Homo sapiens: one gene and its partners. The protein of the gene in region 5 purifies or fractionates together with the protein of the main gene of each other region. This does not show direct contact. Each region holds a gene or a part of one and is shown on either strand. Other genes may lie near its edges.

Region 1 (4,352 bases), on a different chromosome or scaffold from region 5:
TCAGACAAATGCAGAGAATTACAGATTATAGACAAAACAGGTACACATTATCCAGTTTAGGAAAATGGTTATAAATACAACCATGTGCAGGCAGGTTTGGCCCACAGACCCAAGAGGAGCAGATTCAAGAAGACAAGAAAAAAGAGGGGTGCTCTTTAGTTATGGAATAACACATGAACACATTCTTAATATAAACATTTATATAGATAAGGTTAAAGACCTTCTCTTGACCATCTTTCCTCCATTCACTTACCCAGAAGTGACTATTGTTGTCAGTTAAGATGTCTTTACATATATACCTATGTATAAATAGTAATATTATTGCTTTCATTGTTCTACAACTTAAACCAAACAGTATCTCTTGTATTATGTACTAGATACATGTTTTAACTCATTATTTTCAATTAATAGTATTCCAAAATGCTTGCTTTATAGCTTGTTTTTATGTTTTCCTGCTGATTAACATTTATATTGTTTCCAGGTTTCCACTGTGCTGCAATGAGCATCCTTGTGCAACATGTTTCTTTAGAATCCCACACAGAATTGGGATTGCTGGGGCATGGAGTATGTGTGTTATTCATTTGAACAGATACTGCCCAACTAATTTCCCAAATTTGACTATGATAATTATACATCCACCAGCAGTGTGTGAAGGTATTCATGTCTAGAGGATGTTTGGTCTGTTTAGGCTGGGGCTAATAATATTATACTAGTATCATTCTGAGAAGACAACTATACACATGGTTAGTATCTGGTAGCTGTTGTAGAAATGATAGCTCTGTCCTTCTTGTAACCAATTCAAATATGATGGCATTAGCAAATGAAACATAGCAAATCTTACTAGCCAACTGGACTAGCTTTTAAGATACAAAAGCGTACTAAGAAGTTTTATAAATCTGCAGAAATTTAAACAAATAGGAATACACACACATCACACATCACAGATAAAGACATTTATTTATGCTAGTATAAGCAGTATTACTTTATTCAGATGTTAAGATAATAGATGTTTAAATGGCAAACAGTTGTATTTGAGCAAAGACTAGTCTTGCCCTAAAATGAAGGAATTCTTTAATCTTCTTATATGTGGAAAGCTGGAACATTAAGTCCATAGATTATAATGTACTCAATTATTTTTAGCCCTACTTCAGCCTTCATTATTAAAATTGATCATCTAGACAAATGTGGCTTTCCCACGCAACCCTCATGGAAACATTAGAGAACAAATATAATAGGTTCAAAAATTACAACATTAAGATGTAGCTTAATATGAGTCAAAGATATTTAGACATATGGTGTTGAACAGCATGAATTTAAATTGCATCAGTATGGATTTAGGCTGATCATAAGGGGGAAAACCTCTCTGAAAATAGGTTTATTAATTCCAGAAATACTTGCTAAAGAAAACCCCTTTTCCCTGGAAGTCTACAAAATTAAGTAAGATGGTGTGAGTAAATGTCCAGAATGAACAAAACCTTGATGTTGAAAGGTACTTTCAATGGCATCAAGATCTAGGCAAGATTGCAGCAAGTCATCCCATAAATAGCCATTGACCATTCCATAGAAAGTGATCCAAAATATTTTTGAAAGAATGAATGAAAAGGAGATCTTAGTTTTAAAAGCACTCCAGGAATAACAATCCAAATCTCCCTCTTAATAACCTGTATCAGTCAGTGTTTAATTTTGTTACTCATCTGTGTATAGCTTACCTAAATCCTTCATGTTGAAACTATTAAATTCAATGAACAGTCAATGTTTTTGTTTTTATGCCTTTTGTGCCACAGCCCCACATTCCTGATGACCAAATAATTGAAGGCGATAATGGGGTGGTGGTGGTTATCATGACATAGTGGAAAAAGTGCTAGACTTGGAGTCAGCAGACCTGGATTTTATTCCCATTTATACTACTAGCCACTTTTGTAATACTGGTCAACTCATGTTCTCTCTCTGAGATTTGTTTCCTCATGTGAGAAATGAGAAATGGGATATGGGTGTGGGCGAGTGTGGATTAGAGGATCTTTAAGTTTGTTTCTGACGTTCTGTGAATATAAGAGACCATTCCCAACTTATTTTTCCATACAAACAAAACAATTTCAAATTTTTTAAACTTGTCAGTATTGTTTTCCTTTTGATGATGATTATAATGATGACTAACACCTATTAATAGCTTTCTGTGCCAAACATGTTACATAGATCATTCTCTTTAACACTCAAAATAACCCCATAAAGAAGATACTATTATAACCCCATTACATAAACAAGTGAAGTTAGACAGAGGTAGGATAGGTAACCAGATGGAGATTACACAGCTAATGCTAAGGTGCTGGAATTCCAACTCAGCATGACTCCAGAACTCATGCTCTTAATCACCATATTTTGCCACGTTTATTGCTTGCTTCATTATATTTTCTGTTTTTCAAGTTGTGTAACCTAATTATATGGTTAAGTTTGACTAGTCCTTATAACAGAAGGTCAAATACTGGGACTTTTAAAATTATTCAGTGTCAAAAGCAACTTTGGAGGCCTGAAAATAAGACACCCACCCACAAGTAGCTGTGTGAGAGAACAGCCTTGATTAGATAATTTAAGTTTCCATAAACTCAATAGAATTTGTAAAACGCGTGGTACATTTACAGAGTGTACTCACAAGCCTCTAAAACTCAATAAACCATTGAATTTTTGTTTAATGCTCATATCATCTAATCTCTTCAATTTTGCAGGAAGACCTTACTTTTTCTGATAAAATATTCAGCATTTTGTTGAGTCGTTTATTCCTGTGGGTCAGACTTGCTATATACACAAACATTATACTTTATTGGCAACTTTAAGTAGAGTCTGGTGAAAAAGAATTTGGGGCCGGGCGTGGTGGCTCACGCCTGTAATCCCAGCACTTTGGGAGGCTGAGGTGGGCGGATCACGAGGTCAGGAAATCGAGACCATCCTGGCTAACATGGTGAAAACCCGTCTCTACTAAAAATACAAAAAAATAGCCGGGTGTGGTGGCGGGCGCCTATATTCCCAGCTACTCAGGAGGCTGAGGCAGGAGAATGGCGTGAACCTGGGAGGCAGAGCTTGCCGTGAGCCGAGATCGTGCCACTGTGCTCCAGGCTGGGCGACAGAGCGAGACTCTGTCTCAAAAAAAAAAAAAAAAGAAATGAAAAAGAATTTGGTTTATAATTATGTGGGCTTGGGGATAATTTCATTACATCACTTGAGATAATTGTCCATACCTTTGTACACACTAAATCTGAGCTAGGAAACTCTGGTTTCCCTAGAGAATTCATTATTCATAAAAGTATATCTTATTTCCACCTATTTGTTAAAAAAGCTGTTTTCAGGGGAACATCACACACAGGGGCCTGTCAGAAGATGGGGACCTAGGGGACGGATAACATTAGGAGAAATACCTAATGTAGGTGACGGGTTGATGGGTGCAGCAAACCACCATTGCCCGTTTATACCTATGTAACAAAACTGCCCTTTCTGCACATGTACCCCAGAACTTAAAGTATATATATATATAAATATATTTTATTCATATTTATATATATTATATTATATATACTATATATATATATACTTTAAGTTCTGGGGTACATGTGCAGAAAGGGCAGTTTTATATATAAGCTGTTTTCAGAGTTAAATCAGATGATGTGCAAATGGCCTAAATGTCTCAGTTATTTACTTTAGTGAAAATGCTTTTGAGTAGCTCAGTGCAGTAAAGAAAGAAGGGAAGGCAGAAGCTCAAAAGGTGTTATTCTCCTTTGAAAGAAAGAAAACCTTAAAAACTTAATATATACCCTGAATTCTAGGATTATTTCTGAGCAAGACCTTGAAAACTAGAGGGAAAACTATTTTTGTCCTCTAATGTATTTTTGATATTTTCCATTCTGATAATGGAACATTAGAATGGGAAAATATACAGTAAGGGTAATCATCAAATGTTTTGTTGAAATAAAAAATGTGAACTAATTTAAACTGAAATCATGAATATCGAAAGTTAATTAAGGGAGATAGCTGATGTAATGAAAATATCAGGAGCTGGTTTTTAAACTCAGGGCATTCACTAACCAGCTGTACTAAATAGGCAAGTTATTTTGAGCTATTCGAGTCTCAATTTCCTTATTTGTTTAACAGATAAATAATACACAATGAATATTGTCTTTATTTGTACATCGTACAATTTGTACAATAAACATAATAATGCATGTTTTATCTAATTGTTGAGGTTCTATCAAGTTGTTTACTAGATAATCATATACATGGAAGAGTTGTGAAAAACAAAAAACCCATGTATTAATATGAAATATTATTTTCACTGGATTGATTATATATGTGACTAAGTTACTAAC
Region 2 (4,383 bases), about 21 Mb from region 5:
TATGTTGAAATTTCAGATGTATTAAGATTCATATTTGAAGCTCAATTATTCAGGATATTGAATATCACAATTGATCTGCGGTTATGGGACATAAGACATTATAGCTGGGAAAGGTTAATCTGCATTTTTACTCTTAATTACTATTCTTGTTAATAGCATTGCCCTAAACTACCTCTGTCTACAGAATAAAGCAAAATATTTTCCAATAAGTGTTTTTGTTTTTTCTACATTTCTTATCATTTTATCTTCTGTTTTCTAATAGAGAATTTTTATCTCTATTTTCCCATTATTAAACCAGCTATGTATATATATTTTATTTATCTCAAAAACCAAGTTTTAGAACTTACCAGTTATATTATCTATTTATTAAATAATGCCTGCCTTAAAAATAAAACAATTACTTATTTACAACTTGGGTTTAACTTGTAGCTCTTTTTCTAGCTGGCATTTGTGTGTAATCTTGTGCATTGATATGCACACAAACATAATTCTTACCTTGAGTTTAATTTCTTTTCTTTTTAAAAATTCCTTGGGTTTAATAAGTGTCTTTCATTTCTCTTTTTTTTGGTCCTATTTAGTATAACATTTCCCCTTAGCAGAACTTTAATGGTACCCATGAGTTCTTTATATGTAATTATTTTTCTCAGTTTATTTGGGCATATTTATTGTTTGTTTGTCAACTTTCATTCCACCCTTTCCCAACAAATTAAGTTTTATCTTTTGGGTTTCAAATTATGAAACAATAGCAAAGTTGGACTAAAATAAAAAGATTCAGTTTCTTCAGCTCACTTTCTTTAATAGGCAACTTAAGAATATGTCCTCCCTAGATAGCACAATGGTGAAGTTCAAATGAGAACTTGAACAGGCAAATGCGTGACCAAACTAAAATGAATTGCTGTGCTGATATTAAGAGTTCCTGATGGCCTGCTGCTTGTCCATTACATAGGTCTTGATCTAGGAGTAGATTTTAACAAAAGTCACATCGAGATGTAAAAGCATTAAGCTGACTTAAGGGCCATGGACAGAAAACAGAAGGAAGTAACACTATATTAACTACATGTTGCTGAGGGCCTCTACTCCAGGAAGGATTTTACCTTCCAGAAGCTCTAGACTGGCACCGCCTCCAGTGCTGACATGGCTGACTTTATCTTCAGTGTTCCATTTGGCACAGCAAGTAGCAGTGTCTCCACCCCCTATAACAGTGATGCAGCCCTTGGAAGTGGCTTTCACAATTTCATCCATGAGGGCTTTGGTTCCCTTAGCAAAGGCATCCCATTCAAATACTCCTAACGGCCCATTCCAAACAATTAGCCTTGCTTGAGCCACAACTTGAGCATGATTCTTGTTGCTCTCAGGACCACAGTCCAAACCCATCCAGCCAGGAGATATGCCAGATGCTACAGTGGCTTTTCCAACCTGAGCGTTCTCGTCAAACTTGTCCCCAGTAACAAAATCAACAGGAAAAGTAATCCTTACACCATTCTTTTGTGCTTTGGCCATGATATCTTTAACGATCTTGGCTCCCTCTTCATCAAACAGGGAAGCACCAATCTCCATGTTGTTGAGTACCTTAAGGAAGGTATAAGCCATTCCACCACCAATAATCATCTCATTGACTTTGTCCAGCATATTTTTGATAAGTTGGATCTTGTCTGCCACTTTGGCTCCACCAAGTATAGCCAGAAAGGGTCTCACTGGGTTTTCCAAGGCTTTAGCAAAGTAATCTAGTTCCTTCTTCATCAAGAATCCGGATGCTTTATGGGGCAGATTCACTCCCACCATGGAACTATGAGCGCGGTGTGCAGTGCCAAAAGCATCATTGACATAGACGTCCCCTAGCTTGGAAAGTGATGCTCGGAAGGCTTCTATTTTATCTGGCTCAGCTTTAATCTTCTTTCCAGAGGGATCTTGGCCCTTCCCTTCTTCCTCCACATGAAAGCGCAGGTTCTCCAGCAGGATGACTGAACCAGGAGCTGGGTTGGCACAGGCTTTCTCCACTTCTGCGCCTACACAGTCCTTCAGGAACAGAACATCCTTGCCCAGCAAGGATTTGAGCTCAACAGCAACAGGTGCTAAGGAATATTTGTCAGGCATGGGAACACCATCAGGCCGACCTAGATGACTCATAAGAACTACTGCCTTGGCTCCATTGTCCAGGCAGTACTTGATGCTTGGGATGGAAGCCTTGATCCTCTGGTTGTTTGTAATCTGGTTCTTCTTCATGGGAACATTGAAGTCTACTCTCATGATGACTCGCTTCCCTCTAACATCCAGTTTGTCTAAAGTCAACTTCTTAGAAAGAGACATCTTGACAATATAAAGACATAGGCTGACACCTGGATCTTAATGCTGAAGAACCAACTTGCTGTTGAGGGGCTGGGTCGGTGGTGACTTCTAACGCCTTTGCCCTTGTCCCGCCCCTTTCTTCTCCTCACTGTCTCCAGCACAACGGCCACTGTTAGACTGGAAAGCAAATCTAGCTTTGTGATTGGCTCATGGTCCTGTCAATCTCGATCTGAACTGTGTTGCTAGGTGAAGATTCCAACTTCCTGGGCAGAGGGTCATGTAGTGGAATAGAGCTGTACCTGGCTTCAGGCGAGACTTGGGTAGGTGAAGAAACCCCAGAATAAGAATGGTTCTAAAAAAACAAGAATAGTCCTGAGGTGTGCGCCGCCTTCTGGCTCTTTTTGCCCCCACCCCACAGCTCGGTTAACAGTTGCTTTTATTATTAAAAACAAAACAAAAAGAACTCCACCCCCACCCCCGCAAACCTACATACACCTCATTCATGTCAAATCTTAACCATTTTGATATGTAAAAACCTCTGCAGTGCCAAATAAAAGGAATATTTGAAATAATGATTTTCATATGAAACCTTGCTTATTCAAGTCAGGATAGTATAGTTCTGTTTTTTCCTTGTCTTGATAAATATTTCTTTGAGGATGTGGCTTGTTGTTAGTCTTCATCTTTAGATCTATTCTGGGACGTGGTGGGAATGCTGTCATATTTTCATTACTTTGCTTCTTCCATTTTCAGACTACCATGAAAGAATGTTTGGTCACTTCTGCAGGAGAATCCCATAAGATCATAGCAAAGAGAGTATCAGTAACAAGTGCTGAAAGTAATGGTGACATTTCTTTCAGACTACAATGTTATGATGAGGCTCCTTATTTTTTGTCTCCTCTCTGTTTGCTTTCCTACCTGTACAACTTAGAAATTGAGCTGAAAAATAAATGCATGGTTTTCATGAAGATGAAAACATATATTAGAATTGAAAGTGAGTAAGATATTCTATTTTTGGAGAAAGCAAATGTATGTGGCTAGTTGGTTTAGTAATGAAAATTGGCTTTACAGTTTTTTTCATTCTACTCCATAAGTTGAGTGAACTAAATATGTAAAATGAAGGCTTTGACAGAAATATATTTGAGGCATCTCCTATTAAGATGGCTAAAATAAAAAATAAAAACAAGTGTTGAGAAAGAAGTGGACAAATTGGAATCCTCATTTATTGCTGATAGGAATGTCTAATGGTGCAGCCACTTTAAAAAACAGTTTATCGGTTCCTCAATGTTGAACATCGAGTCAACAGCATTTAAAAGCAAACTTAAATGGTGTTAAAATATATAGTAACAGAAACTCTCATTTGTTGCTCCCAGGAATGAAATATGCTACAGACATTTTGGGAAACAGCTTGGCAATTTCTTAGAAATATGCATAGACTTACCATACAAGTCATCAATCCTATTTCTAGATATTCATCCAAGGACATCAAAAACCTGTATTCTCTCAAACTTCTGTAAACAAACGTTTAGAGCAGTTTTATTAATAATTACCAAAATTGTATATTCTTCAAGTAATAAATAAATAAACTGTGATATATCCATGCAATGGAATATTATTTTTTAAAAAAAGAAAAGAAACAAGCTATTTACTTACACAAAAGCCCTGGATAAAACTTAAATGTGCCTTACTAACTGAAAGACGCCAGGCAAAAAAATTTTGTAGTTATTGTATAATTCCATTTGTATGACATTTGATAAAAGGCAAAACTATAGGGATGGAAAACATATCAGTGGTTGCTACAGGTTAAGAGAGCGTGGTCAACTATAATGGGGATACACAGGAGGATTTTTAGTGTGGTAAACTTTTCTATGAGGTACTGGAGTGGTGGATACAACATTCTATGCACTTGTCAAAATTCATAGAATCGTACGTTGTAGAGAGTAAACTTTAATGAATGCAAATAAAAAATATGATCCAGAGTGTTAGGGAATCGTATTATATAATGTAGCCTCTGACAGATAAGCCTAACTGTATCGTAATATATAGGAAATTTTACTACATGTGATGTGGAAATTTTACTACAGGTGATGTGGACAAAAA
Region 3 (4,352 bases), on a different chromosome or scaffold from region 5:
AAAGGTGGAATAGGAGCAATCTAAATACCCTCCCTCAGAATAAAGCCTGAGGTCTCCACTTAATGAAATGCTATCTGTAGGCTGGGTATGGTGGCCCATGACTTTAATCCCAGCATTTCGGAGGCTGAAGCAGGAGGATTCCTTGAGGGTAGCCTGGGCAACAGAGCAAGACACCATCCCCACAAAAAATTTAAAACTTAGCCCGGGTGCTAATTAGCTCAGTAGTATGTTCTCATAGTCCTAGCTATCAGGAAGACTAAGATGGGAGGAATGCTTGAGCTCAGGAGTTTGAGGATGCAGTGAGCTAGGATCATGCCACTGCACTCTAGCCTGGGTAACACAGTGAGACCCTGTCTCAAAAAAGAAAGAAAAGGAAAGAATGGGAAGGAAGGAAGAAAGAGAGGAAGAGAGGGAAAGGAAAAGGAAAAGGAAAAGGAAAAAGGAAAGGGGAGGGGGAAAGGGGAAAGGAAAGGCAATCTGTCATTATTAGAGGGTGGTTTTGAGGACAATATAGCAAAAAAAAATTTTTTTTAAACATCATACAGGCCAGGCACAGTGGCTCACACCTGTAATCCTGATACTTTGGGAGGCCAAGGCAGGCAGATCACTTGAGCCCAGGAGTTTGAGACCAGCCTGGGCAACATGGAGAAATCCCATCTCTATAAAAAATTAGTTGGGGGTGGGGCACGGTGTCTCATGCCTGTAATCCCAGCATTTTATGAGGCCGAGGCAGATGGACAACCTAAGGTCAAGAGTTCGAGACCAGCCTGGCCAATGTGGTGAAACCTTGTCTCTACTAAAAATACAAAAATTAGCTGGGTGTGGTGGCGGGCACCTGTAATCCTAGCTACTTGGGAGGCTGAAGCAGGAGAATCGCTTGAACCCGGGAGGCGAAGGTTGCAGTGAGCCGAGATCGTGCCATTGCACTCCTGCCTGGGCGACAAAGTGAGACTCCATCTCAAACAAAAAAAAAAAAAGAAAGAAAAGAAAAGGAAAAAAAAAATTAGTCGGGCGTGGTAGCACACGCCTGAAGTCCCAGCTACTCTGGAGGCTGAGGTAGGAGGATCATCTGAGCCCAGGAAGTCAAGGCTGCAGTGAGCCCTGATTACACCACTGCACTCTAGCCTGTGTGACAGAGTGAGACCCTGTCTCAAAAAAAAAAAAAAAAAATCAGGCAGAAAACAGATGCAATATTGCAGATTGTTATGATGACAAGGATGTGTACACATCTGTAATCTGCCCACAGAACAGCTCTTAAGGAAGCACATCGAAATGACAATAGTGGCTATATGAGGATGAGTGATTTTTTTTTTCCCTTATCCTCAAAATAATAATTCTGGGCAATTCAGTCGCATGATGAAGCATGTATATCTGCACCTATATCTCATCTAAAAGGAGTAAGGGGGCAGCGGCCCAAGGCTGTGCAGGATAGAAGATGGCGCAAGGGTGGGCTTCAGGCCTCGGGAGAGTTGGGGAGGGCCCACCTTGCTCTCCTGGTTGCCGTAGGCCAGGAGCTGCAGGCAGTCGGTGGTGATGGCCAGGAACTTGGGGTTGTTCTTGTTGAGCAGGGGCACCATCTTTTGCAGCCCGTCGGCCAGGCGCACGGCCATCTTGGCGCCCTCCTGGTACAGGAGCAGGTTGTGCAGCGTGGTGATGGCATAGAACAGGACCGACTCCACAGGGGAGCTGGGGGGGTGGGCAGGGGTTAGTACGCTGAGGTCCCAGAGGCCTGGCATACATGTGAGCCTGGCATGGGTTCCCACCTCCCCCAGGAAGCCTCCCCGCTACTGACGCCCCTCTGGAAATATCCCTTTGCTAAAATCTCATCACTCCTTGAGCCTGCCCTGCTCTTAAGCATGAAGCAAACAGCACCTCTCTTCTCCCAACTGGGACAATGACTCCTCCTGCTTCTGAGTCCCCAGCCCTGTGCTGAGCGCACAGTAGGTCCCCTAGACACTGATCCCTACTAAGTAACCACCATGTGGAAGGCCACATATTAGAGAGGCCTTGCAAGGCGTTCAGAGGGGAGTGAAATCAGTGTCTCCCCTTCAGGGAGCTTCCAGCCTGGTATGGGAATGAGAAATAAGGCCAGGAGCAGTGGCTCACGTCTGTAAACTCAGCGCTTGGGGAGGCTGAGGCAGGTGGATCACCCTGAGGTTAGGAGTTCGAAACCAGCCTGGCCAACGTGGTGAAACCCCGTCTCTACTAAAAATACAAAATTGAGCTGGGCATGGTGGCAGACGCCTATAATCCCAGCACTTTGGGAGGCCAAGGGGGGCAGATCACCTGAGGTCAGGAGTTCAAGACTAGCCTGGCCAACATGGTGAAACCCCATTTTTACTAAAAATACAAAAATTAGCCAGGCATGGTCGTGGGTGCCTGTAATCCCTGCTACTTGGGAGGCTGAGGCAGGAGAATCTCTTGAACCCGGGAGGCAGAGGTTGCAGTAAGCCGAGACTGTGCCATTGCACTCCAGCCTGGGCAACAGGAGGAAAACTCCATCTCAAAACAAAAAAAAATAGCTAGGTATGGTGGCAGATGCTTGTAATCCCAGCTACTCAGGAGACTGAGGCAGGAGAATCATTCGAACCCAGGAGGTGGAGGCTGCAGTGAGCTGAGATCACGCCACTGCACTCCAGCTTGGGTGACAGAGCAAGGCCTCATCTCAAAAAAAAAAAAAGAAATGAGGCCAATCCACATTTTGTAGGGGGCCAGGAAACAGAAAGTTTGCAAGGGACTTTGCATTTGCTGTTCCCTCTGCCTGGGACACTCTTCCCTTCCTCTGCACTAGCCAAACTCCACTCATCTGTCAATCCCCTGCCATTAAGCGATTCCACCTTTGAGCAATCTCAATGCTCTTCTGCCATAGCCTGTGTCGTATCCTGATCATTAACCTGCTGTTTACATGCCTGTGTTCCCTGCTGGGCTGTGAGCCACCGAGCACCCGGATGGGGTGTGCTTCTGCCTGGCACATAGTAGGTGCTCACTGGATATTTATGGAAGCTCAGGGAAGGGAGGGGAGAGGCCCAAGTGAGAGGGGGTCCTGGGCTCATGCAGTGAGCAGGGTTGGGTACCTGAGCATGCGGACCAGAGCAGGGATGCCACCCGACTTGAAGATGGCGAGCAGCCCCTCCCGGTGGTGGGAGAGGTTGTGCAGGATGCTGGTGGTGCAGCGGGCTGTGTCCAGGTCGCTGGTATTCTGCATGGTACGCACGACAGCGGCCACCAGCTGGGGCGAGCCCATCAGGGCCCGCCGCGACGCCTCCTTCTTCGACAGCTGGTTCACAATCATGGCCGCCTTGGTCACCACCACCTGGAGGGCAAAGGCAGGGGCGGGGACGTGAGCACTAAGGAGAGGCCGGGATACCCTTCCACAGAGCTGAGGAGGGCCCCAGTCAGACTCATCACACACGGGAGAGTCTGGGTCATAACCTCCCTCCACCCCTACAATGTCCCTCCCCTGAGGACATCTGCTCTCTCCCCTCCCTGCCCAGCCCCCACCCTAGCAGGGACCCTCACAGACCGGGTCCTCGTCGTTGAGCAGTTTGGTGAGCTCGGGCAGGGCGCGAGTGGCCAGCTCGGCATCGTCCTGGTAGTTGATGAGATGCACAATGGCCGACTTGAGCAGCTGGGACGGCTCGGCCAGTCGCTGCAGGTTGGTGGCCTGCCCCTCCACCTGGGTGGCCAGCAGAAGCGAGCTGTCCTCGCCTGACACACCAGGGCACATGGCCTCCCGCACCCGTTTGGCCCTGGCTGTTGTGGACATCTGGTACTCCAGATCACCTGGGGGCCATGGGGACAGGGACTGAGTGCAGGCAGTGGGCTGGGCAGACACTGGGGAGCAGGGCAGGCCACAGACAGCCCCACCTGGGTCCTCTGGGCTACCTCTTGCCCTGCCCAAACCCCCAGCACATGACTGGCCATTCTACCTCTCACCAGGAACCTTGGGGAAGTCACCATCACCTCAGTAATCTCTGTAAAATAGGCCCCACATGTTCTGTCCATCAAGGGAATTTTTTTTTTTTTTTGCACACTTATTATGTGCCTGGCAGTGAATTCAATGCCCTGCTTATATTTTCTCACATAACCTGACAACGACCCTGCAAGGTAAGTACTATCACTGGCTCCACTTTACAGATGGGAAAACTGGGCACAGAGGGGTTATAAGGCAGCCTGACTCAGGGGCCCAAACCCCTACTCTATTCTCCTCCCTTACCCATCAGGTCTGTTTTCAACCCTGAAATCTCAGGAGTCTAATTACACCCTCATCATCCCCAACGGTAGCAATCCTCCCACTATACAGGCAGGCAAACAGAGGCCCAGAGAACCACCAACATCACATCTCACAGCAG
Region 4 (4,009 bases), on a different chromosome or scaffold from region 5:
TTGGTTTTCCATCTCCATGGATAAAACCCCGGTTACTGCCATGGCTAGATTCCTGGGTGTACCACATAAAATGACCATAGACGATTGACTTCCTAAGGTGGAGGTTCAAATGGATCAGGAATGATGTACTTATGCCAGTAGACAGGTGTCAGCTTCCCAAGTGCTCAGAGGAGAAAGGCTTTGAGGTAACACTTGAGTTCATTAGGAAAAATAGGTGTGATTGATTAGTCATGTCTGCCATGGGCACCAGGCTAGAGAGATGGCACACTTGCTAAATGTCTTTGATGCTGTAACTAGCCCACCTCCAATGTCCCTTATAGTTCTGAAAAGTGACATTTTTCTGTCTGCATACTTCCTTGGAAACATTCTGGAGATGGAACAATTATGTAAAAGATAGCCATTCAGCATGAAAGTGTGGCCTGTAACTTTACAAATTCCCAACACGTCTGTTTTTGTGAAAGAGACAGGAGCTCGGTGTGGTGGGTCACATCTGTAATCTCAGCACTTTGGGAGGCCAAGGCAAGAGGATTGCTTGAGACCAGGACTGTGAGACCAGCCTCGGCAACATAGCAAGACCCAATCTCTACCGAAAAATAAGAAAATTAGCCAGGTGTGGTGATGCACACCTGTAGTCCCAGCTACATGAGAGGCTGAGGTGGGAGGATTGCTTGAGCCCAGGAGGTCGAGGGTGCAGTGAGCTATGATGGTGCCACTGTACTCCAGCCTGGGTGGCAGAGCAAGATCTCATCTCTTAAAGAAAAAAAAAAGGAAAGAAGACACAGGCTGAAGCTCCTGATTCTCCATTCATGATAGACACACCTGGGAGGAAGCCAGCCACTGGGAAAAAAGAAATTAAATCCATAACTCCTTTTGTATCAGCCTCACTGTTTCAGCACAGAACAAAGATTTCAACACTTTCTTTCAAAGTTTGACAACTGTTTATTGAACACTCATTATGCAGATTAAGGGCTTGTTCCCTGCCCTCCAGAAGTGGTCATTTCCAGCATCTAATCCTGGGTGAGAGGGAAGGATCAATCAGAAAAAAGAGAGGAAATGGCTTTCTGGAAAAAGTAGGGGTGGGAGGTAGTGGAAGAGGGGTAAAGGGAGAGGGAGGGCCCTCCAGCTTGGGGGAAATGGTGATAGCAAAGGCTTAGAGGCAAGGGTGAGTAAGAAGACATTAGCCTTTTTGAAAGAGTGAATTCATGGTGGAAGAGATGGGAGATGGGTTTAGCTAAGTGCTGGTAGATGGCAAAATTGGAAGGGTGTGAGAGATCCTGATGTGCGGTTTGACTTTGGTCTTTATTTGATTGATTGATTTATTTTGGAGACCGGATCTCACTGTCTCACCTAGAGCTGGGATGCACTGGCATGATCATAGCTCCTTGCAGCCTCAAACTCCTGGGCTCAAGTCATCCTCCCACCTCAGCCTCCTGAGTAGCTGGGACTACAGGCATGTGCCACCATACCCAGTTAATTAATTTTTTTTTTTAGAGACAGGGTCTTGCTGTGTTGCCCAGGCTGGTCTCTTAACTCCTGGCCTCAAGTGATCCTCCCGCTTCAGACTCTCAAAGTCGGGAATACAGGTGTGAGCCACTGTCCAGTACCCTGGTCTTTAAATAATATGGTATGTTGTGTCTTCTTGAGTGTTCCAGGGAGATCACTGTTATAGATGGTATGGAGGACACATGAAAAGTGGGATGGAAAAGCAGAGAGGCAAGGGAGGAAGTTGGTTGCAAAGATGCAGATATGAGAAGCTGAGGACTTGAGCCTGGACAGTAACATGTCAGGGAAGAGAAGACCGGCATGAAAGTTGTTTCAAAATCAGGCTGGACTGGGCATGGTGTCTGGTGGCATATGAAGGATGCAAGAAGAGAGGGGTCATAGATTGACTGCAGAAATCTGAACCTGGGATCTGAGGTTGAGGATACCAGGGAACGCTTGGAGGAGTAACCGGGAAGAAAAGCCCTGAGTTTTTAGTGACGCTGGATGTGCCCGTAGGTTACTTGAGCAGGAAAGGTCAAAGCTGGGGATGGAGAGATACAGGCTGTAGAGTTGGAAGATAGTGAAGCCGATCTGACTTCCAGCCTGGTGCTGCAAGGTTACCTGGAGGTAACCTTGGCTGGTGGTTATTGAAAATTTCTAGAAACTTCCAGAAAGCTCCTACCTTGGAGATAGGGAAAATTTTTATTAGTCATCTTCACTAATTAGAAAAGTTTTCAGATGGATCAGGATTTAGCAGGTTGTGGAAAAGAGGCTGGGCTGGAAGTCAAACCTTGTCCTTGCCTCTGTCTTACTGTATTGCATTTGACAAATTATTTAACCTCTCTGGTTATGAGAGGTTAAATATTATGTTGTCTGCAAAATAGCAAGGTGACAACAGGGAATTTGCCATAGCTCCAACACGCTCTCATTTAGAGTAATTGAATGCAAGAATAGTTGAATAGATGGATTTTCTTGGAGAGAGGGCAGAGTCCAGGGTTTCAGGGGAGGGGTGTTAGGAGGAAGAGATCCAGAAAGGAGGAGACAACTTTATTATCTAGAGAGGCCATGAGCTAGGAAGAGAACGGAGTTAGGACACCAACTTGCCAGCCAAGGAGGAGTGGTTTTGGAGAGAAAGAATGGTTCTTACCTTACTAACTCTCCAGGGTAAAGGAAAGAACTGGAAGTTGGGAATGCATTGGCCTCAGGAGGAGGTTTGACCTCCAAGTGAGATGCAGGAGCCAGCAGAGGTTGGATTGGGGTAGGAGGGGATGAGTGGGCTTTGGTTTGTCTATGGAAAATCTTGAGCTTTATCCAGTTTCTGCTTCATGGGAGAAAGAAGACCACAGGAACAGAAAGTGGGATAAGTGAATGCACTCTTAGGTCTCTTCGGTTGCATTAATAAAGATAGAAAGTCCAGCCTGAGGGAGGTGATGTTAATGTTGCCACCATGCCTTGTGCTAAGTTTTGGCTGGCTTGCTCTAATAAGGACAGGAGGACCTGCATGAAGGGTGTGATGGAAAAGAAACTGGGTGCCATTTGGCCTTGGGAACAGAAGATCTTGGGGAGAGGTAAGAGCTGCCTCTAAATTTCTGTGAGACAGAAAGAATGCTGGAAGGAAAGCTCCTCCTGGTCTTTCTACTTCTACTGCAGATACAGCCGTTTCCGGAGGGTGCTTTGGATTTCAGGGTTCGTTTTCCTTGCTTTTCCTTCTTGAACCAGCTCTGCTTCTGCCATCCGCCGGGTCACCTGCAGCAACAGGTGTGGTGAGCTTGGAGGAGTCAGTGTCATGGACTTATGGGGGGAGGGTTAGGGAACGGGGCAGGTGGGTATTCTTGTCCTAAGATGAGAGACCGTTGTGGCCTCTTCCTATACCATAGTTTGTATGGAATCCTTGGCTGGGCATTTTTTAAATAATTTGCAATAAAAACATATAAACATTAAAAGAAAACAGTTTGCCCAAACATTGTTTATATCCAAGGGGGATTTGTTTATAGAAATTTATCTCCCATACTGTGGCTTTTAAGAGTCCCTGCATTTGGGAAAGTTGTTGGAAAGTGGGCTTCTTAGTTTCTGTATTGAGATCTGGCTTGGATTTGGAGCTGAGGGAAATGGAGAGGGGTTAGGAGGAGGCTCAGCCCCCTCCGCCTGCACCCTTCTTGGCCTGGGCGGTGGTCCCAGCTACCTTTTGTCAACTCACCTCTGTCAGAAGTTCCAAGATATGTCCTTTCCTCTTCGTGAACACATCCACCAGGGTCTGGATAAAGCATGAGCCTTTCTGATCATGTCGGTAGGCGATGTATCCTGGGAATTCCAGAGAGGTGGGTTCGGGGGAGCTTCAGAGGGTAGGTAGAGGGGATCCTGGAAGGGCGTGGGTCCTGGAGGAGAGGTTCAGGAGTTGGGAGTGGCAGGAGAGGGGGAAGAGCAGAGGGATCCCTGGGCCAGCTGGGAGCTCATACCCTCTACCGTGGAATAAACGTGCAAGGCATCTGTGTATGTTGGGATGGTTTGTGGGCTGTCTTTGATGACC
Region 5 (3,607 bases):
GTTTAATCCTCTTTGATGCCTACCTGGAAATTCCATGTCACTCCACCTTTTTTTGGTACTACAACTGTATTTAAGCATGAGAAATAACCAGAACAAAACCCCCACGTGTATTTTTATTTTTATTTTAATTTTTGTTGAGATGGAGTCTTGCTCTGTCACCAGGCGGGAGAGCAGTGGTGCCATCTCAGCTCACTGCAACCTCCACCTCCCGGATTCAAGCGATTCTCCTGCCTCAGCCTCTCGAGTAGCTGGGATTACAGGCATGTGCCACCACGCCTGGTTAATTTTTGTATTTTTAGTGGAGATGGGGTTTCACCACATTGTCAAGATGGTCTCAACCTCCTGACCTCGTGATCCGCCCACCTCGGCCTCCCAAAGTGCTGGGATTATAAGTGTGAGCCACTGCACCCAGCCTCCACATTTATTTTTAAACAAGTATGAACTGTACCCTCCTATAATAGGCATATTCCATTGTTCTGAGTCTTTGTTTATGGTCCCTTTATAATATTAGGTATATAAGAAAGATTAAGTAGTGTGCAGAAAGGCAAATGGAGGAATGTGCGCAATGACAGAACATATTAAGCAGAAAATGAACTGGAAAGACCCCAAGTAAAGGCACTCAGAGGAGTAGAAGGCAAGTTTAAAACAACGATTGCATTCCAGCGAGCAGTCAGATTAAAAGAGAGGCTCTGAAGTTACTATGAACAGTAATTTCAGTTTGGATAACAAGTCTATAAAATCAGATTAGATAAGGAGTATGCATAGCATGTTTGGTAAGGAGAACATTCTCACACAGGTTCTCATCACTAAGTAAAGTCCCCTCCACTGAGAAGAGTTTCTAACAGTGAAACAGCAAAAGAACTACCATAACTAACTCCATTTTTGTTTAAGGACCCTTTACCTATTCCTCCATGTAGGCTAATTTTAGAGCAGAGATAATATGCAAAAACAGCAATCATGTAGTTTTAAAAACTAACTCTGGGATTAAAGAAGTATGTATAACAATTATGTTTTGTTGAAGATTTGCAGGAGCATTGTGACCCAACCAATGACAAAGAAGTTCCCAACCTCCTTGGACTCTTGCTGGCGCCCAGATGTCTGTGGTCATAGGTCACCTCTTCATCCCAACTCTGTCCTCTTCCCTTTGCCCTTAACATAAAAAGAGCCGAGCCCAACATTTGTACTGACTTAAGATGGTACTTTAGGACAGTAGTCTACCATCGTCTCAGTTTGCTGGCTCTCCGAATAAATCTGCTTTTCCTCGCACCAATTTTCTTCTCTCCCGAGTTTTGGCTTTGGAGCCGCAAGCAGCTGAACCTTGGTTTGGTTACAAGTTTGCATTCTCATTATGTGAGAAATGGGAGGCAGGGTAAACTTAGGTAGAGCACAGGCCTCACATACTTAGAGCTACAGAGCTCCCAGACTCACTCTGGGTTCCTTGTTTCCTGGAGGAAAAAAACTAGGTTTCCAATCCCAGTTGCCTCAGTGCCTCATGTGTGCAACTCCAATGCTGGGGTTATGAAAAAAGCCTAACTAAGCAGTCCTCAACTTATGAGTAAGTTGTTTTTCAACTGTTCATTTGCCTTTCTCTCTTGTGAACTCAAGAAGGTTTTTCCACACAGAAAGTCATGTAAGTTCCAATCCCAGAAGCCAATTTGACACCTAATATACCTGAATTATAATACTTATACCATTATGACTTCTATGGGAATATGTGTTCATATTTACAACTTAGCTAGAAACATAATATTCCTATAGGACCAGAGACGCTTCTAGTTCCAACCCAGGGATGAAATTCTATACAGGGTTTATGGCTAGAGAGGCAAGAGACAGGGGCACTAAGAAAATGGGGCTGGGGAGTATATTACAGGAGTGAAGAGAAGATGGGACAAAGACACAGGGCTGTGTAGAAAGGTAATTAGGAGTGGGACTTACTAAGGAAGAATGCAGATTACCCTTCTTTTATTTTTCCCCTTCCCCTTTTGTCACTGTCTCACCACTTCAAACCCACTAACCAGCTAGAAGTGTGAAGAGAAGAGAGGACTGGAGTTGTGTTGGGGTGTAGTAGGAAGTTAGTCCCAGAAACTGTGGAGTTTGCTGTGGCAGGGTAGAAAAGGAAGGAAATAACAGGCCATCTCAGTAGAGATTAAGAATGATTTCTGTAAATAAAAAGACAGATCAGGAGCCATGTGTACTTCCATGTGGCTTATCTGTTGTCCACTAAAATAATCAAGACAGGTTCTCATCCAAAGCAGAATTTTTACTCAGCAAGGCAAGGTTAGAGTCAACCAGTTTTGGTTGATTCATTTTTCAGAAGCCCAAGGGATAGTATCTCTAATTTGGGGTCCTTTTATGTGCTCAAGAAGTAAACAAACCAACAAAATGTAAATCAGTTCTCAAGAGCCATTATTAGGGAATTCAGAACATAGTGCTAACATGAGATCTGAGAAATAAAAGAAGGTAAAGCATAAAACAGAGAAGAGCACCAGGCCCTCCCCTAAATAAACAAACAACACAAGGCCTTGCACTCAGAAGACCCTTGGAATGTAGGTCTGTCTCTCTTTCTTTGAATACTTAAATCTGAAGGGATGGAAAGACCACCTAAAAATCCTAGTTTTTTGGCATGATGGGGGTCTAATTCCTTGTTCACTCCAAAGAGCTGATGGCACATGTTCCCTGTAAGGATCTCCTTGTGCTAAAAGTCTGCAGTGGCCTTTAGTTTATAGGACTGTGTTCAGGCTTCCCCACTTCGCAGACAGCCATGAAGTCAGCTGTCATTCAACTCAACGCTTCTCAAATTTTAAAGTATATTAAGTAACTGTGGAGCTATAAAAATGAAGATTCTCAACTCCCATCCTAGGCCTAATGAAGCAGAATGTGAGTGGGATTCAGGGATGTTAAACAAGCTCCAAACATGATTTTGATGTTCATCAAAGTTGGAGGATCACTAGAGTAATGGCCAGGACTAGAAGTCAAAAGACCTGCACTTAGGTTACTGGTCTTTTTCTTTGTGTGGGATTATAGCTATGTTGCCATCTCCATAGGCAAGAGTATTCTCATTTTTAAAATGGAGAATGCTTTTGATTTACCAAGGTATTTTAGGAATTGAGAAAAGTGCTCTGTAAATGTCCAAGTGCTATAAAGTATTAGATGAAATTATTCACACTCTGGCCCTCTTATGTGTCTGTCCCCAAGCTGTTTCCAACTTAATGCTATTGATTGCCCAATTTGCACGAACCTTTTACTTCAGGTTGGCTAGTCTTTTCCCTGATGCTTCCAAACCACATGCACTCTTATGATGGCTTACATTTGTTTTACCCGCTTTCTCCCTTTTGACTGCTAAGTCTGCCCGTCAAATCCTTATTTTAAATAAAATCTTTCTTGACCACTCCAGGCAAAAGTAACCTGTCCTTTAGAATTTACAGCACTTATAGTCTGTTACAAAGTACCACTTTCATTCGACACCATCTGGTGCATCAATTCTACTCTCCTGTAGTCTTATATGACTAAATATGTGGATCTTATCTATCCCAAACTAGGCTACAAACTCTCTGAGAAAAGAGTTTGGGGTTATCTTCTTGTTCTCCACAGCACGTAGTACAATGGG
Region 6 (3,461 bases), on a different chromosome or scaffold from region 5:
GCATCTGTGATTAAAGTTAAGCCTCTTTGAGACGGGAGAGTATCCTGGATATTGACGTGAGCCCGATGTAAATTGCAAGCGTTCTTATATGTGAAAGAGGAAGGCAGGAGGGTCAGAGCAAAGCAGTGTGAGAAAAACCCAAGCAGCGAAGATGGGAGTGGGCCACTAGCCAAGGAATGCAGGTGGCCTCTGGAAGCTGGAAAAGGCAAGGAAATTGACTCTCCCCTAGAGCCTCCCAAAGCAATGCTATCCTGCTGATACTTTGATTTTGGCCCAGTGAGACACATTCCAGACTGACCTCCATAACTGCAAGATAATACATTGCATTGTTTAAACCACTAAGTTGGTGGTAATTTGTTACAGCAGCAGTAAGAAATGAATATACCCAATATCCTTCTAGAAAGCTCCTTTTGTAGTATACTTGTTGCTTAAATAAGCTAGAAGCTATTATTATTGCTTGTAACTGAAGAGCTAAAACTAATAAACTAATTTCCAAGCCTCAGTCTCCTGTCTCCACCCCCTCACTCTGTTTCCAGGCCCTGATTTCTGTTCGGCCAGCCTTCCACTCCCCCATTATGAGGATCTGAGCCCTGCTTAGTGATAGGACCATGCCCTTGTTGACAAGCCTCCCAGACAGTACCTGGCTCCTCCCTCACCTGGTCTCCTGGCTGTCATCTGACCCAGATTCCTTGTCTCTGTGCCTTTCCCACAGGTCAAGTCACCCTGCTCCTTATCTGGGACCTAACTACCCCTTTTCCACTATCACTTGGCTGGATTGTGACTTGCTGTTACATTTCTTTCTTGCACACTGTACCCTAGACACAGACTCAGCCACTTCTGCCCCAGGATCAATGCCCTCAGAATCTACCAAACCCCAGTAGGAAAGACTAATTCTAGAGCACAGCATGCACCCAGCTGCTCCTTCCCACTGCAAGTATTGCACTCAGACTGGCCACATCATAGCATATGACACACACATGCATGTCTGATGGTTCAGGGTAGCAGTACACAAGCAGAAGCCGGTCTCTTTCCAACCCAGAACTTTGTAATTAAACAAGCTTCTTGCTATATCCTAAAAACACAAATCCTTAAAGCATGAATGAGAAATGAAACCCAATGACAGAAAGTTTAGTGAGCAGGTTTGGTGTTTTTATACAATTAGTTCAAATTAGCGAGGAAGGCGTTCAATGGGGCAGTTTCCTAATCGCTGACCTCACTGGGGCTCATTTCAGCTTTGCAAACTGGTTGAAATGAAAATTCAATGTGTTTCCTGTTCTCAAATTTATCTGTCACCCCAACAGGCTCATTACAATTGCAGGAGGTGCAGATGAACCATCCGGGGTGAGCCGCCGACTCCAGCATGTTCCAGGAGCCCACCTGAGCCCTATAAAAGATGAAGGGCCGGCGTGCTGATTCCTTTTGGGCAGCCAGCTTCATCAGTTTCTCCTTCTGTGAGGTAAAAGGGATTAATTAGATAGCACAGGCTTTGAGAGGGAGGAAAACACAGCACATGTGCTCATCCTCCAGGCCTTTACACAGGAGAGGAGGAAAAGAGAGAAGGCAGATGGTCCTTGGGAAAGATGACGTGTCAGCCTTGGTACTGGTATTTAAGGGATGATAAGCAATCCTGCCCTCTTTTCCAGGCCTTCTTGTCCCCCAGATTAAAAATAAACTGAGAGAGAGAGAGAGAGAGAGACGTAAGAGTCAGATGGATACCAAAATCTCAGCTCTATAGTTTTTAAAATTAGAGAATATGGCTTAGATCTGTATCTAATTCAGCTTCCTAAGATTTCTCCCCTCAAGTGAAAGGTGCTCCATCCAGGACTAAATTTGCAGGGCAGACACACTGCCCTCCGAGTGCTCCCTCACACCCTCCTACCCTACAGCAGCACGCCAGGGTCCTGGCCCAATTGTGTTGCTTGCCACATGGAGGGCCACAGCAGGAGGGGACCGCCACCCGCCCAGGGCCAGGACCAGTGAGCCCAGGAGAGGAGAACAGGTGCTCAGCTCCTTGCTGTCTCCCCGCTGTGAGGAGTCTCTCCTCCTTCCCTAGAAGGGGCAAGGAACCAGAGAAGAAGTTATGGGGCTCTTCTGCCTGGTGCTTCCAGAAAGGTGGATGTCCCTGTTATATTGGCCAAGATAAGAATTTGCAGGAAAGCGAGAGGCATTGAGGATCTTGGCCTTTTACTTTGGGGTAGCCAAAGGCCCAGGAAACTGAGCTAGAACTCTCACCTTCAGCTGAAGGGATGGATGACTTTGTCCTTTATCCTTGTCACAGTAGAGACAAAACTCCCCTTTAGAGACCCCCAGGAGAATCGGACTTCCTTTCTCCGCAGAGGCTGAGCTCAAGGATGAGGCTAATGCAAAGAAGATCTCTGGAAAAAGACAGTCAGAACATGTGTGGGTTCTGAGAGCAGGGAAAGGTCTCTCCTGTCTGCTGGGGTTTCAGGCCTGATGCACAGTCCCTCTCCCTTGACTCTGTGGTCCACTTCTCCCTCCATCACACTGGTTTAAGCCTCCTCTTCTTCCAGTCTAAGTGTCTGCCTCCTTCTTTTTCTCCAGCCCTTCCAGAAAGACTACTTTCAGATCTGGTCATTGCTAGAGACCCTTCATCTGATGCCCTAGTCCCTGGGGCCTCTCCTCCTCGCTTCCACCACCTGCTGGAGATGGGGCATGGTATAGCATGGAGTTGAGCCCACCTAGCAGGAGGCCTTACCCCTGCTAGGTGGAGGCAGAAAACACAGCCAAAACTGAGAGTCACCTGGGCGTATGTAGTTTTTATCTGGAACTGCTATGAGATTCCCAGAGTCCAGGACCAGTACTTTGTGATCCTGGTCATGAATGCTGAATTTCTTCGGGTTTAAGTTCTTCACCTTTGGACCTAGATCAATATCACCAGATATCAACACTTCACATTGAAAATGGAAGACTCAGCCCTTTCTTCCCCACGTCCAAGGGCCCCAGCCCTAGCTCTCCACCCTGCCTGTGGGCTCAGACATCACAGCCACTGAATATTTCTTCCACTCCCAGGCTTTCTATCTTGCTGGGACAAGCAATTAAGCTTTCTGTGCAAGCAAATGGGTTCCAGATTTGGACAGATAGATTCAAATCCCAGCTCTGCTGTAGGACAGAGGACAAGTTACTAAGTCTCTCCAAACCTCAATGTCCTCATCTGTGAAATGAAAGTAATAGCAGCACCTACTTGAGAGAGGAGTTATGAGAACTAAAATGCTTACTCAAATAAGTAGCACTTAGCCTGAGCAAAGAAAATGTCTGGCGTATAAAAAGGACTTTTTATAATCATTGTTTTTCTTAACTCTCTTTTTTGCACCCTCTGACTGGAGGCATCATTCCCTCAGCAGTGCCTAGAGTGGAACAGATCCCTGCACTGGCCAGGCTAAGGGAGCGGTGATGGAAGAGTTGGGAGGGTTGGAGGCAGGAAGCCCCCAGGAGCCCAGCAC
Region 7 (4,335 bases), on a different chromosome or scaffold from region 5:
TCTCACAAAAGGGTGACCTCAGCAGAGGAGGATTTTAATAACTGAGTGAATAGGATGACCTTTCTCTGGATACCAGTCAGCCTCTTTCCCCAGCCACCCTGGGGTTCACGAACGAAGTGGCCATGGTGGCAAGAATAGAGGTTATGCATGGGCTCAGCAACATAAGGATGTAAGCAAGGGAGGGAGTGTGACTATTTGCTTCACTCGTGTCCCCAGAGCCTAGCACAGTGCTATTGCATAGGAGCCCAATAAATAGTAGATCCTTGAACAACATGGGTTTGAACTGACGGTCCACTTACTTATACACAGATTTTCTTCCGCCTTTGCAACCCAAGACAGCAACTCCAACCCTGCTTCTTACTCCTCCTCCTCAGCCTATTCAATGTGAAGACAACAGCGATAAAGACCTTTATGATGATCTACTTTCACTTAGTAAATATAATTTATCTTCCTTGTGATTGCCTTTTTTTTTTTTTTGAGACGGAGTCTCGCTCTGTTGCCCAGGCTGGAGTGCAGTGGCGCGATCTTGGCTCACCGCAAGCTCCGCCTCCCGGGTTCACGCCATTCTCCCGCCTCAGTCTCCTGAGTAGCTGCGAATACAGGTGTCGGCCACAACGCCCGGCTAATTTTGTTTTTGTATTTTTATTAGAGATGGGGTTTCACCATGTTAGGCAGGATGGTCTTGATCTCATGACCTCGTGATCTGCCTGCCTCGGCCTCTCAAAGCACTGGGATTACAAGTGTGAGCCACCGTGCCTGGCCATGATTTTCTTAATGACATTTTTTCCTCTAGCTTACTGTAAGCATACAGTATTTTACAATACATACACAAAATATGTGTTAATTGGCTGTTTATGTTATCAGCAAGGCTTCCAGTCAACAGTAGGCTATTAGTAGAAAAGTTCTGGAGGAATTAAAGTTATATGCAAATATTTGGCTGCACAAGGGTTGGTGCCCCTAACCTCTGCATTGTTCAAGAATCAACTGTATCCAAATGAATAAATACACTGCAGAACAAGAACACGTTGCAGCTTAGTAATAGTTTTACTTATTAACTTACTTAAAAAGAGATAATGAACATTTGTGAAATTGTTTACAATTGAGATATCCATACACACAAGTCATGTGCTGTGTGATGTTTTGGTCAGTGACTGCATATATGATAGTGGTCCCATAAAATTATGATCCTATATTTTTACTGTACTTTTCTGTTCAGATACACGAATACTTACCACTGTGTTACAACTGTGTACAGTACTCAGCACAGTGATGTGTTGCACAGGTGCGTAGCTTAGGAGCAACAGGCTGTACCATATAGCCTAGGTGTGTAATAGGCTATACCATCTAGGTTTGTGTCAGTGTACTCTATGATGTTCACGTCACGATGAAATCACCCAAGACACATTTCTCAGAATGTATCCCCATCATTAAGCAACACATGACTGTATATATACATTTACTAATGTTTGTTATTTTTAATACAGAAAAGTTTCTTCTTTGCTTTTTAGAAATTTTATCAGTTACAAAAGGAAATAACATTTAGAAAACAGTTTCAACTTTCATAGGCAAAACATACACATGAACCACACATAGGGCTGAGTGGATGTTTCCTTATTGCTAAGTCCATAGCCTCTAGTATGATGCCCAAGTGTCATAACTACACTCCCACATCAGCAAACTCCTCCCTCTTAATATGCTCAGTGATTTCTATCTCACCCTTCCTTACTTCCTTTGCAATTCAAGTAAGAAAACAAACAATTTAGATGTTCGAGTATAGGAAATATTTGCCGAGACCAGCTTGGTCATGGAGACCCTAACCCAGAGGCGCTAGAGAAATTAAAGACACACACCCAGAAATATAGCATGCAGAGTGGGAAATCAGGGGACTCACAGCTTTCAGAGCTGAGAGCCCCGAACAGAGATTTACCCATGTTTATTGACAGCAAGCCAGTGATAAACATTGTTTCTATAGATTATAGATTAACTAAAAGTATTCCTTCCCAAACGAAACAAAGGCATGGGGTCTGGCTAGTTATCTGCAGCAGGAACATGTCCTTAAGGCACAGATCGCTCATGCTATTGTTTGTAGTTTAGGAACGCCTTTAAGCCGTTTTCCCGCCCTGGGTGGTCCAGGTGTTCCTTGCTCTCATTCCGGTAAACCTTCAGCATGGCGTCATGGCCATCATGAACCTGTCACAGTACTGCAGAGATTTTGTTTATGGCCAGATTTGGGGGCATATCCCCAGCAAATATTGGTTAAGTCTGTGCTTCAGACTAGATTTTTCAAGTCTACTGGCTTGTTTGAAAAACGCTTTTAGACAACACATCAGGTTTGTAACTTTTCACAAGTTTAAAATATTTCAAAGGTCTTTGAAAATTATAAAATCTTGAAATATCTCTATTTTAGTTTTCCGAGGGGTGCTGTTTTGACAGATTTGAAATTTTTTTATTTGAATAAAAAGCCATCACTCTTTCATTCAATTTAGTGCCTAGATGTTTCCTTAGAGCCTGGGTTGTTGTTCCAAGAATCTGTGGAGAGTACCAACTTAGCCTGCTGCTGCAAAGACGAAGGAATCCTTTCTCAGAGAAAACTCAAGACTGAATATGGTAGACTGGATTTTCCAGAGATGGCTGTGGACATAGGCTATCAAAGGGTTTTTGGGATACACAGTCCCACATGCCCCTTCCCTCCCATTGCATTCACAATGGATCACCTTTCGATTAAATTTCACCAGCTCATCCCCGGTAATTTTTTATTTGACTGGAAACATGGGCTTTTAAAACACACACAGGGCTCTCCTTTAGCCTGCAGAATGTGGGTATATCTTTACTATTTTCTCCTGCTCATAAAAATACATGCTTTTCACTAAACGAGTTAAATAACCACCCATAATTCACCCACAAGTTTGGTGTACTTTCTTCCAGTATTTTAAATATGCAAAAATATCGTTTTATTTGTATTTACTACCTGTGTAACTATATGCTTAGCCTTTTTCCCCCCATTTTGAGTTTATTTTTAATTCAGGGATTAGGTAGCCAGAGTCTGGCCTAGTGACTTCTGACCTTTCACTTGTGATCTCTTATCCATCTTCGGCCAGAGGCCTCTTTTTGTAGCCCAGCCTCATCTCTTGTGGACCTTGAACAAATTTCTCCAGCTACTGTCAAATGCCTGAGATTTGTTAACCACACCATTTATTTTTGCTAACACTAGTTAACAAATAAGCTTTTCTAGAAGAGCTAGGTGGAATATGTCATCAGAGACTTGGAATGAAAACAAAATACCCTTGGTAACTTACTTGCACCTGCGTCTTCCTCAGACTGCAAAGTGGTCACCAGCAATTCAGAGAGGCTCCAGTAACAAGCAGCTTCACTTTTTATCACGTAACCTAACCATCTTGAGGTTATGTGTCAAAGGAAGAAGACATTTCCTTTTCTAAAAAGTCAACTGCTTTCTTCTTTACTAAAACAATTTAGGGGCTGGGCGCAGTGGCTCACATCTGTAATCCCAACACTTTGGGAGGCTGAGGCAGGTGGATCACGAGGTCGAGAGTTCAAGACCAGCCTGGCCAAGATGGTGAAACCCTCTCTCTACTAAAAATACACTAGGCGTGGTGGCACGCGCCTGTAATCCCAGCTACTCGGGAGGCTGAGGCAGAGAATTGCTTAAACCCGGGAGGCAGAGGTTGCAGTGAGCTGAGATCACACTACTGCACTCCAGCCTTGGTGACAGAGTGAGAGAGACTCCGTCTCATAAAAAAAAAAAATGTAGGTTTGTCCTTCCAAATTGTTTATCAAATTTTGGTAGATTCAGGAGTTGGGTAACACACAGTAACTGGGCAGCTGATATAAAGTCTGTATTTTTATAACTACTCAAGAGCCAGGAAGCCAGCTTTCTGCTAGCATCTTTCTCCTAACATACCATTGGCACATGAAGTTATTATTTCAGAGCTTAATTATATTTCCTGACTACACAAAAAGCCAATGCATTAAAAAAAGGCCCACCTTTATATACGAATTAAAATTTATTTCAAACTGTTTTGTACATCTTTTTAAAAAATGAAAATTCAAAAGTCTTAGAATTAAGCAATGAGTCTTTGATATCATAAAGCTGTGTATAACAATAATTAAAGTAGTGGTAACATTTTACCCTTGTAAAAATGTCACAGAATTAAAATCTCAACTTGGATCCTCAATGATTCAACTGGTTTATCTTACACAATAAGCGTTTGGTCAGTTTCAAGATAAAATTTCCCCAGACATGCTGTCCTTAAGTCCTTCCTCCTCACCATCCATCAGCTCACACATTGGGGTAGCTGGCTGCTGTGGCGATTCCAC

What was found.
Region 1: the proteins of ZSCAN12 (region 5) and POF1B purify together in Homo sapiens (affinity purification with mass spectrometry; one large-scale study listed by BioGRID and IntAct). This does not show direct contact.
Region 2: the proteins of ZSCAN12 (region 5) and PGK2 purify together in Homo sapiens (affinity purification with mass spectrometry; 2 studies listed by BioGRID and IntAct, with this or other methods). This does not show direct contact.
Region 3: the proteins of ZSCAN12 (region 5) and JUP purify together in Homo sapiens (affinity purification with mass spectrometry; one large-scale study listed by BioGRID and IntAct). This does not show direct contact.
Region 4: the proteins of ZSCAN12 (region 5) and CASP14 purify together in Homo sapiens (affinity purification with mass spectrometry; one large-scale study listed by BioGRID and IntAct). This does not show direct contact.
Region 6: the proteins of ZSCAN12 (region 5) and IL37 purify together in Homo sapiens (affinity purification with mass spectrometry; one large-scale study listed by BioGRID and IntAct). This does not show direct contact.
Region 7: the proteins of ZSCAN12 (region 5) and CTSV purify together in Homo sapiens (affinity purification with mass spectrometry; 2 studies listed by BioGRID and IntAct, with this or other methods). This does not show direct contact.

The regions. Positions count from the first base shown.
Region 1 is NC_000023.11:85,369,209-85,373,560, forward strand, and holds part of POF1B (protein POF1B), read right to left. Parts: intron 1-4,352. UniProt on the Homo sapiens protein: Plays a key role in the organization of epithelial monolayers by regulating the actin cytoskeleton. May be involved in ovary development.
Region 2 is NC_000006.12:49,784,881-49,789,263, forward strand, and holds PGK2 (phosphoglycerate kinase 2), read right to left. Parts: upstream 2,406-4,383; 5' UTR 2,308-2,405; coding exon 1,054-2,307; 3' UTR 780-1,053; downstream 1-779. UniProt on the Homo sapiens protein: Essential for sperm motility and male fertility. Not required for the completion of spermatogenesis.
Region 3 is NC_000017.11:41,765,895-41,770,246, forward strand, and holds part of JUP (junction plakoglobin), read right to left. Parts: intron 3,784-4,352; coding exon 3,524-3,783; intron 3,314-3,523; coding exon 3,075-3,313; intron 1,687-3,074; coding exon 1,485-1,686; intron 1-1,484. UniProt on the Homo sapiens protein: Common junctional plaque protein. The membrane-associated plaques are architectural elements in an important strategic position to influence the arrangement and function of both the cytoskeleton and the cells within the tissue.
Region 4 is NC_000019.10:15,055,204-15,059,212, reverse strand, and holds the end of CASP14 (caspase-14 precursor), read right to left. Parts: coding exon 3,939-4,009; intron 3,858-3,938; coding exon of another isoform or gene 3,784-3,857; coding exon 3,680-3,783; intron 3,229-3,679; coding exon 3,124-3,228; 3' UTR 920-3,123; downstream 1-919. UniProt on the Homo sapiens protein: Non-apoptotic caspase involved in epidermal differentiation. Is the predominant caspase in epidermal stratum corneum. Seems to play a role in keratinocyte differentiation and is required for cornification.
Region 5 is NC_000006.12:28,386,711-28,390,317, forward strand, and holds part of ZSCAN12 (zinc finger and SCAN domain-containing protein 12), read right to left. Parts: 3' UTR 1-3,607. UniProt on the Homo sapiens protein: May be involved in transcriptional regulation.
Region 6 is NC_000002.12:112,916,549-112,920,009, reverse strand, and holds the end of IL37 (interleukin-37), read right to left. Parts: intron 2,882-3,461; coding exon 2,762-2,881; intron 2,376-2,761; coding exon 2,233-2,375; intron 1,450-2,232; coding exon 1,201-1,449; 3' UTR 1,128-1,200; downstream 1-1,127. UniProt on the Homo sapiens protein: Immune regulatory cytokine that acts as a suppressor of innate inflammatory and immune responses involved in curbing excessive inflammation.
Region 7 is NC_000009.12:97,028,652-97,032,986, forward strand, and holds the end of CTSV (cathepsin L2 preproprotein), read right to left. Parts: coding exon 4,298-4,335; 3' UTR 1,026-4,297; downstream 1-1,025. UniProt on the Homo sapiens protein: Cysteine protease. May have an important role in corneal physiology.